Linked DNA regions of Homo sapiens: region 1 is linked to region 2. The links come from fine-mapping of genetic effects on gene expression. A gene starts in region 2. The other region holds a variant in brackets. All regions are shown on one strand. Distances are between the middles of the regions.

Region 1 (5,387 bases), 24 kb before region 2:
GGGCCTTATCACTGTTTTACAAGCATTTTCTATGAGGCCACTGATGACCTCTCTTTAGGCCTTATTTTTCTTAACCCCTCTGAAAAGTTTCAAATGGCTGACCATCCTCCCATTTTCTTGATACTCTCTCCACCTCCTATCCGTATGATTCTGCCCCTCTGAGTGTTTTCTTGTTGCCTTTTTTTTTTTTTTTAAGCACTGGTTTTGTCTTGCCCCTTCCAATCCATTCTCCATGTGTGGTCAGAGCATTCTATCTAAAATAAAAATCTGATCATGTCATTCCTCTGCTTAAACCATGCAAGCTTCCAGTTTAGGATCCACCCCGAATCTATAATATGGCTCATGAGGCTTTGTCCATCTCTTTAGCCTCCCTCCTCATCACTTCCCATTCACTCAACTCTTCTCAGTCTGTTTCCTCTGATTAAACACTCTTCCTGTACCTTCCAGCTATGCCCTCATCCCTCATTGTCCCCTTTGACAGGCAAAGTCCTGCTGCTTTTGCATGTTCAGTTTAGCTATCACTTCCTTCTGGAAGCCTCATCTGATCTCTTCCATTCATGGGTTGGCTGTCTCTACTATGCGCATGTGCTCCTGAGCCATCCTTTCTCTTTCCTTCTATAGATATAACCATATCATTTATGAGAGAGATATATATTCTCTCAATAGCTAGCTAGCTAGCTAGCTAGCTAGATATCTCTTTTTTCATCTCTGACTCCCACCCCATTCTGTGCACTCCATGACAAAAAGGCTTTGATTGGTTAGGTCAACACAGAACCCAGAAATGACACATGGCAGAGACTTAATTATCAGGACAATGAATTAATTTGGTTATACAATCCAAATAATAACTAATAGTAACAAAAATTAACTAACATTTCCATAGTGCTTTCTATGTGTGAGTCATGGTTCTAAGTACTTGAGTACTAAATATTGTAATAATTCATTTAATTCTTCTAACATTCACAAATAGTAGATCTTATCAGGTTTATATTTTTATAGAAGAGTAAACTGAAAAATAATAGGATAATGTTTTAGACCAAGGGTAAACAAATCACTGCTCTTGGGCCAAATTCAGCCAGTTGCCTGATTTTATAAATAAAGTTTTATTGATAGATAGCCATGCTCATTCGTTTATGGCGTCTTCTGTGGCTGCTTTCCCACTATAATGGAAAAGTTGAATAGGTATGACAGAGACTATATGATTCACATAGACTAAAATATTTACTATCTGGTCCCTTATAGGTTCATACAGAGTATCTGCCCCAAAAGTCTGCATTTGAAGCATGCTGAAAAATCATGTTTATTTATGTCATCTTTTTGTTTCTATCCTGAGAAGACAATCCCACTACTCTCAAACCCCCCTTTTAATTTTGATTTTCTATTTTATTATTATTGTGTTGTGGTAGTATATTAAAGCAAAATCCATCTGTCTATAATGTAAAATAATTTTCCTTGGTAGAGTTTTTTTTTTTAACCATGACCTGACTATTTATACCTTATAGAATTTAGAAGTTGAAAGTGCCCATGGCCTCACTCATCTTTTTAAAAAACAAATTTGGCAAATGAGATCTGGAGATCGTGATTTATTTGCTAGGAGTCATGTGATCAGTCATGTAGGTTCTGGATAACAGCCCAATTCCCCTGACCTTCTGAAGAAGGCCCTGGTGGCCCAGCTCTCTGCCTCCTCGTTGGCAGGGGTCCTGAGCACCCTCTCTGGCTGAGACAGCAAGGTCAGATGATTTGTTTTTCAAATACATACAGCCAATTCCTAAGCTCTCAACAAAAACAGGACCCAGAGAGTCTAGCTAAGTTATTGCTATTATCTTTCTGTTTGACCTTGTCTAGACTTCCACCCTGGCTTCTTTGTTTATCTCATTTATGCATGGGGCGTGTGTGTGTGTGTGTGTGTGTGTGTGTGTGTGTGTGTGTGTGTGTGTGTTTGTGTGTGCATGTGTGTGGAGTCTCCAGTTTTCATGACCAAACCTTAAGCAAATGAGAAAAATGCCTTAGGGTCTAACTAGAATGAATGCTACTCTAATAAATATTAGTTTTGATATCATCTGAGCCCCAGGATACGGAATATGAAATTTCCAAATGGTTATTATTCAAATCAATCAGTAAAGAGTACATCAGAGCCTCAGTGGAGCTGCACAGCTCAATTAGCACACATGGCATCTACTCAGCATTTCCTGGATGCAGCTCACATCACCCAGGACCCTGTGTGAGCAACACTGTGGTTAAGGATATGTCACAGCAAATCAACAAAATATGCAGTTTGATCAGCACATTCTGAGAGCAGATCATTAAAATATGCAACCAGATCCCCCAAGTGCATGAAAAATTAACTAACGAGTTTTGTATCTTGATCAGTTTAATGAGTGAGAAGTCGCTGAACAAGAGTGTCAAATTGTACAGTCTGGCAAGGGGGCAGACAATCGTCAGAGAGCAGCTGGGAGGGCCAAAGCTAATACTTTTTGTTTTCAAAATACCAAGCCTTAGAATTCAATGTCAGAAAAAGCTGATTAGTATTAAGATATTGTCCAGCTTGTGTCCAGCAGGATGTGATGTGATGTAGAGCCTTCTGATGTAAATGAAACATTGATTCTGTTTCAGGCTTCACTAAGTCTTAACAGACTCAGCTATGCGCCTGGAAGGCCCTGCCAATGGCATCATATACACATGTGTAGAACTAAGAGGCAGTGGCAGCCTTCTGGAAATATCTAAACCATCCAAGCTTAAAGAGCAACTAAAAGGAAGAGAAAAAACTTATTTAATCAAACTGTGTCAGAGATGCCTCATGCTATTAAGCAGGACTTAATAAACCAAGAATGTCCAAGCTAGAAAGTGGGTGGAGAATTTGAGTCAGTTAAGCCCAAGTGGTTGATGATCACTCGAGATGTGTGAATTGGATTGTCACAGAAGACTGTAGGGCCTGCTGTCACCCTGCTATTGGCAGGATGCTGATGGGGAGGTTGACAACCTACTCTTAACATAGCCACACATGCCCCTAGTGACTTGGCCCATGTGTAAACAGGGACTTGAGCACCAGTCTGTTAATTCTGCTCTGATACTTTATCTTGGTCGACC[G/A]GCTGGCATTGCAGCTGCGGGAATGTTGGTTTCCCAGGGCATAAATTTACCCCCTTTTATAGTGAGCTGGGCAACAGAAAGATGGCAAGCCCAAATAAAAGGCAGAAAGCAAATCCAAATGGGAAACATTCTACAGACAAAGGGGAAGATTGGCAGCCTGGCAAATGCTGAAACCAGAGCTGGCTGCTGGTTGCCCTTCCAGTGAACATGTACTGTTGGAGCAGAGGAGATGGGAAGAGAAGCAGACAGTCGTGTGTGTGTGTGTGTGTGTGTGTGTGTGTGTTTGTGTGTGTGTGTTCCTACTTTTAATTAGACTTTCCTAAAGTGTGGCACATGGACATAGAATGACCTTTGGTCAGATGTGATATGTGGAAAACTTTAAAATATGTTGATAGTTCTGATTCTATTTTCATGAATGTCAGGTAAAATAGAAATAGCACATCAAACTCATGATTTCACTAATATTTCTTAAGGTGAGGTAAGTATAGCAAAAGTGAGCCAAATTAAGACAAACTTAATGAAAAATACTGCATTTTGAAATAAAATATGAAATGAAAAATAAAGAAAAATACTATATATGTAACAGCACATGTGATAATGGATATCTCAAAAATTATAAAGGGATTTTCAAATGGCTTAAAGTTTAGGAAAATTTGGACTAGATTACTTTCTTTAAATAAGAGAGTTTCATGCCATTCAGTCAATGAAACAGGACTTATGAAAAGTAATAGCTTGGAGTGGATAATTTTAAGCAAGAAAGGAGGATTGGAAATAAAAAAAGGATCTCAAAGTTTGTCATTTATCCCATTTTCAATTGTCCAGGGGGCTAAAGAAAACTCTTCAGCCATAAGCCACTCTTGAGGCTGACATATTAATGAGCCATCATGAAACCATAAAAAGTACTTTGGATTACCAAAAAAGTTCAGTTATTAAAAGTTTTAATTAAATTTGTATGAAGAGTTTATTATAGATGATATCATATGTCAAAAGTACACATACTATATATGTGTGTCATACATATACACACACACATTTGTATATTTTAAAAGAATAAAACAAACGCATATGTTCCCTCTAGCCTACTTAAGAAATAGAAAATGACTATTTCAGAGCTGACAATGTGCCCCTCCAATAACAACTCTGTTCCCTTGCATTTCCACGTAACTCCTGTATTGAGTTTAATGCTAATTTTATTTGTCTTTTTAATAATCTTACCACATATGCCTGTGCTGCTAACATATTGCCTAATATACTTAAATATAATATTTTCTGTCCTTGCATTTTATATGAAAAGGATCATTCTATATGGATTCTTCTGTGATTTGCTCTTTTCACTCAACATTATGATTTTAATGTTTATACAAGTTAATATGCATAGATTTAGTTAATTTTATTCCTACGTGCTATTTCAGTGAATCTATCACAATAATTTATCCACTATACTGCTTATGGACATGTGGATTGTTTTTTGTTTTTGAATGTGAATAAGGCTGTTTTTACGGATCTCCTGGTGTTCACGGGCAAGAGCTTCCCTTGGTAGACACCTGGGACTGGCATTGCCAGGGACAGGCACGTGCTTCTTCCGTGTCATAAAGTACTGTCATATAGTTTTCCAGAACAGTCTTATCAATTTGCATTCCCACCATTGACAATAGTAACAAAAATAAGGTACCTAGCAAAAAAATGTACAAAGCCAAATATGAAATAAAATAATTTATTGAAAAACATCAAAGAAGACCTAAATAATTTTGGAATTATGGCAACCTTATGAATGTGAAAATTTAATGTAAAAATGTTAATTCTTCCCAAATTATCTGTACATTTCATACTCTTTCTCTCCTTCTTTCTTTCTTCCCTTCCTTTCCCTTCCCTTTCCTTCCCTTTCCTTTTCTGTCTCACTCTGTCACCCAGGCTGGAGGGCAGTGACATGATCACAGCTCACTGCAGCCCTGTCTCAACCCAGGGTCAGTCAATCCTCCCACCTTAGCCTCCTGAGTAGCTGCCACTACAGGTGCATGCTCCCATACCTGGCTAATTTTTCTATTTTTTTTGTAGAGATGAGGTTTCACAATAATTCCCAGGCTGGTCTTGAAGTCCTGGGCTCAAGCCATCTGCCCACCTCAGCCTCCCAAAGTGATGGTATTACAGGTGTGAGCTGCCACACCTGACCCGTACTATTTAATTTAAATTTAGATAGAGTTTTACATGGAAGTTGCAATCTGATTCTGAAGTTTACATGGAAATGCTAAGGGCCAAGAATCACTGGAATAATTTTGAGAAAGGAAAAATAAGGCAATGTG
Region 2 (5,387 bases):
GTGGTGGTGTGCGCCTGTAATTCCAGCTACTAGGGAGGCTGAGGTGGGAGAATTGCTTGAACCCAGGAGGCAGAGGTTGCAGTGAGCCAAGATCGCACCACTGCACTTCAGCCTGGGCAATAGGGCGAGACTTCTTCTCAAAAAAAAAAAGAAAGAAAGAAAGAAAGAAAGAAAGAAAGAAACTTGACTGTCATAGTTCATGCCACATGCTATTTTGCTGAGCCAAAAGGGAGTTCCTGGCTGTGTCTGAGTTTTTGTGCCTGCAATGGACTCTTCAAAGCTGGAAGGCTGACCATAGAAATGGTGTGCTTACAGGAGCTTTCATGATTACAGGTAAGAAAAACTGTTTATAGAAAATGAAATCATTCAGAAGTTCTCAGTGTTTATATGTAACTCACCTATGTAAGTTGCCTTAGAATTTACCTCTTTTCTGTAAAGAAAACGTCTTTGTCTGATTTTGTGGTTACAGACAATGTTTTATTTCAAGTTTCCCAAAGGAGGGGAAGGAGTGAGAGTTAGACAAGAACAGAGGGGAAAAATAAAGACAAAGCAATACTCTGTAAAACTGATTACTCAAATACATTTTTGACAAACAGGTGTAATATCTGGTTGCTGTTGCCATTCTGCCACCAAGAAACCTGATGACTTCATTTGGGCCTCTTCAACCAGCTGCCCCTAAAGCTAGCAAGCTCCACCCTTCAGTGTCCACTGATAAATTCCTTAATAGCGTAAGTGATTTTAGGAAATTTTTGAAAATTGTGTATGAATGGATGGATTCCATGACAAGGGTATTGAGGTCAAATGGTATGTGGCTAGGTACTGCCAGGCAAGTCTAAGAGATTAAATTTAATTATTTTGGGGGACTCAAGTATTGAGGAAATGACTATGTAGCTGGTTAGGAAAAAATAATTTAGAAGGTCCTGTTTTCAGGTACACTGAATGACTACATTCCTTTCCAGGCCTTTCTTGCATCTGCTAGTTGTCAGAGGAAGCCTGTGGTTGTCACTGAAGGAGCCCATTTGTCATAGATAGTTCCTGTTGAGTCTCTTAGTCCACTTAATTTTCAATGAGCTGCACCCAGGAGAGACTTCCCACAAAACTAGGTTAGGCTGATTCTGTCAGGTGGAAATTTTTTAATGGTAAATGGCAGAAAACCCAATCTAAAATCACTTAAGCTATTAAGGAATTTATTAGTGTACACTGAAGGGTAGGTCTTGCTAGCATTAGGGGCAGGTGGTTTAAGGGGCCCAAATGAAGTCAACAGTTTTCTTGGTGGCAAGAGGGCAATAGCAGCCAGACCTTACACCTTCTTATCATCAAGTCCAGCAGCTTAGACTTTTTACTCCCAAAGCTGAGCTTTCATCATTGTCCTCTCATTGGCCTAGAAGGGGTCGCACACCTGCCCTGCATTAGTCACTATGATCACAGGAATGCAATTACTCTAATTTGGGTAAGACCAATTAAGGCCCATCCTGTTTATGGGCATCAGCTGTACCCAAAGGACATGGTTTCCCAAGGGAAATTTGGGTGCAGTTTTGACTAAAAGTAGAGTAAGTGAATGTTGAGTGTCAAACACAAGAGAAAGTAATCTTCACCCCATGAGTAGTCCTTTTAATTGGACTAGTAATTTTTTTACATGCAGCATGATTGCCACTGAATGGAAATATTTTTATTTCCACTTGTACATCTTACACCTGACTTTCCCCACTGCAGCCCCCGCCCCCACCCTCCCTGTTACCCTCACATGGTTTGACTGAAAGTTCCGGTCGGGAGAGACTCAGAAATGTTTTATCACTTTATGTGAAGGCAAAACCTCAGATCAATAAGGGAAGAAAGCCCATGCCATACACTTAAAGGGAGAGAAGAGCCTCTAGATATAATAATCCACTGGGCACCACCAATTAATTTATGCATTAGAGGTTTTAAAGTGCATTCTCCTTAAAAGAGAGAGAGAGATGAGGCGATGTGGGAGTGCTTGTGAGGGATCCCCAATGAATTAGGTTTGAAAAGATGAGTTCTATATTTGGATGGTAAAAGGAAGGAGTTAGAAATTTGAGTGGATGCAAGAAGGAACCATGAGGGTTCAGAAAAATCTCTAGTGCTACCAGGGAAGTTTCATTAAGTTGTTGTGTGTTTCGTAAGCAATACCAATAGTATAATTAGACTTTTGCTCCTTTACCCTAGCTATTTTGCTTCTCTTGTGGTATTTTTCTTCTATCATATTTGGCTTAAATACCATTTCATTCCAGTGCTTCCCTTCCTGCATTCCCTCCCCAAGCCTTTTTCCTGATGCCTGCTAAAAGGCCCCACATCTGATATTAACCTAAAACTTCCTTGATTTCTTAAAGTGAGTTATTCATTAACAGAACCTAAATTACTGGTTGTTAGGCAAATCTAATTCTTTCAAACTACAGATCTGCTCAGAGAAATCTGTAAATCTAGTGTAGAAATAAGTGAAGCTTTGCGTCAATTGTTAGGTCTAAGCAGAAGTTTGGGAGAGAGAAGAAAAGTTACTCATTTGCCTGATTCCGCACGGTGAGTCAATGGGGAGGGAATGAAATGTACCACTGGCTTGACAGGCAGCTCAGGGAGACGCGGCTGCAGCCCACAGGACTGGGCAGCAGCTGCAAGGCTGCCTCTGAGCATGGTCATGGGTCCCAGCTGCAGTGCTCTAAAGATCAAGGATTTTGCCTTCTATTTTCTATGACCAGAGATTCCTGTGCAAAGAGGTATGGCTATCTTCTTTCATGACCTTTTGTTCAGCAAAAACAAAAGCTAATTAAAGTAAATGTCAGAGGCTGCAAAGAAGCAAAGAGTGGGGGATAGGAGAATGGAGCTGAGAAACTTCCAGGGGCTGGCTGATTATGCAGATAAAGCACATTTGGGAGCTGTGTGTCTAGCCATGTATGCAGGCATTTCGGTTATTAGAGTAAAAATGCCACTTCTCTGTGGGTTATTAAAACATGTCTCTAGGCCTCAGGAGCAGAAAGCTGTGCTTCTAGATTCATATCATGTGCATTTTTGTTTTACTCCGTAATAATCTAGTCTCATTTCTATTTTATACTTTTGTTTACTTCAATCAACATTTTGCAACCAGCAAAGAAACTGGCTCTGCCTACGGATTTTCAAAGAAAATTAAATATTATAGCATCATTACAGTCAGTGGGTTGAACAGGGTCACCATTACTGTTTGTTGCTGCTGCCGTTTTTTCCTTTGGTGTTTCAGATATCTTACAAATCATAATTAAATCTAACCACTTTTTTACTCTTTCAGATACACACTTAAATTGTTGTAGTAATCAACCATTGGATTAAATGACATTTATATATTTTTGATTTAAAAAGCAGAAAAAAATATTTAGAGAAATATTTGAGTTGGTCATATAGATATTTGGTACATGAAACTTAAATGTAAATGAAGATACATTTAACATTGAGTTTTCCATGTAGTTTGAGAGTTTTGGTACATTTTCTGGAAGAACAAACCCACGAATTTGAATTAGGATTTTTCAGCAAGATTTGTATTATTCCAGAGCAAAAATGACCAACAAAGTCAACATTTACAGGTGAAAATGAATACACTATAAAATTATGACAAGTCACAAAAGCCTTGATTTTAGAAAGTTTATTAGACTTGAAGATAAGTGTTTCTCATCCTTTTTGAAGGAAATGTTTCCTATTTGTGTTTTAATAAGTTGAAATAGGTAATCAAAATTAAGTAGTTTTTTGGGCTCTTGACTAAATAGGTCACCAAATCTATTTTTTTCATGTACTTATGAAATAAGCCTGCTACAAACTTAGATCGTATGTACTCTAGCAAAAAGACAGGGCTGAAGCCTTTAGCATTGCTTAGAATAAGCCAGACTCAGAGGCTTTCAGTAGAAGTGAAGTGTAGCAGCACGCCACAGCCAAGGAAGCCCAGAGACATCCAGGGAACAATAGACATCTTGTGGGAAGGGCTGAAATGTATGCAGCCAATTCCCATGGGAACGCCTGTAGTCCTTTCACGCTGTGTGAAAAAGATGCTCCTTCAAAAGAATCTGTAATCCTTTCTTTCAAGGGAAAAATCTGAGAACTTTATTGAAAGTTTCTAGAGCCCAAATGGGTCTAAGTTTGTTAATGAGCATTTTTAATACAGGTGAATAAAATGAAAATGTTTTGATGCAGAGTAATGTAGTCTAAAGCGTAATGTAAATAAATATTGTCATTCTAGAATTTTCTGAAGTGAGGAAGCCAGGGTATACCCTAACCTAAGTTGCAAGCTAGAGGCTGAATTCTTCAGAATAAGTTGGTTTCTTGAGTTAATTATGGTGATTGAAATCTCCCCCAAGAGTTTCAATTATTCTATAGGCAGTATCCCAATAGTGTGGCGATTAAGTCCTCCAGTTCATGTATATTTTCATTTAGCAGAATCTACAGATGCATAATAGAGTAAGCCACTAATGTTTTATTAGTGGGCATTGAGTGTACGTCACCTTGAAAAGTAGTAAAGAAAGTAGCTGGAGCCCTGGAGGGCCACTCCTTTCTCACTAATAAACACGGGAAGGAGTGCTACACTTCCATGGAAAACTCAGGTGTTTGGATTACCCAGCCACAAAAAGTTTGAGATACATTGTATTCTAGCCCATTTCTGCTCTGTAAAAACATTCACTGTTATTGTTCAACCTTGGTGTGGGTAGGATCACCGTAAAACTATCTCTCCAGGAAACAAGATAAGGTTGCCAAAAAATCAACAGGGACCCATTCAAGAGAATGAAGTTTACAGATGAAAAGTGAACAACCCAGAGGTAAGGACAGGATGACTAAGATAGAGAAAGGACAACAAAGATATAAATATGGCTCAAATGGAAACAACCTAAACATCTTTAGCTCTGTGAACCCAATTTAGTGAACAGTACAGTCATGTATTAATTTTTAAAAGGTATGGCATGGGGATGTGTTAACTGGTGGACCATCTATAGGAATAATAGTACTCTTAAGGATATGATTGCTGGCACTTTTTCTGTGGTTGCCATATGCCAGGCTCTGTGTTAAATGTTTTATATCATCTCCTTAAACCTCCCAACAACCCATATCACAATCCTCAGGAGCAAAGGAGGAATTCCAGGCTCAGGGAGTCTAATTAACCTGCCCACATTTACACTGCAGGTAATGGCATAGCTGAGCTTGGAATCCAGTTGAGTCTAGATTCCCATACTCTTATCACTCTGCTCTTCTTACTGGAGTTCCATAGAGTGTCCAATTCAGGACTCTACACCCTTTAAAAAAATAAAACTGGATAAAAATCTAGGGATTAAAAATCAGTAATAATGAATAGAGGATTAAAAGGGAAGGCTAAAGCAATATCATCTATTCCATTAAAAGACGAAACTTCATTAGTATATTGT

Evidence for each region. PIP is the estimated chance that this variant, and not a neighbour inherited with it, causes the effect.
Region 1: its variant is fine-mapped to the expression of VEPH1 in whole blood (TOPMed, PIP above 0.99).

What each region holds. Positions count from the first base shown.
Region 1 is chr3:157,525,016-157,530,402 of GRCh38, reverse strand. No RefSeq gene overlaps it. Among named protein-coding and RNA genes, the nearest start is that of VEPH1, 24 kb to the right of the region's middle. The variant G/A (reference allele first, on the strand shown) is at 3,088.
Region 2 is chr3:157,500,619-157,506,005 of GRCh38, reverse strand. It overlaps VEPH1 (ventricular zone expressed PH domain containing 1), which reads left to right and starts at 2,590. Exons shown (of 14, transcript NM_001167912.2): 1 at 2,590-2,729. RefSeq lists a silencer at 2,563-2,797.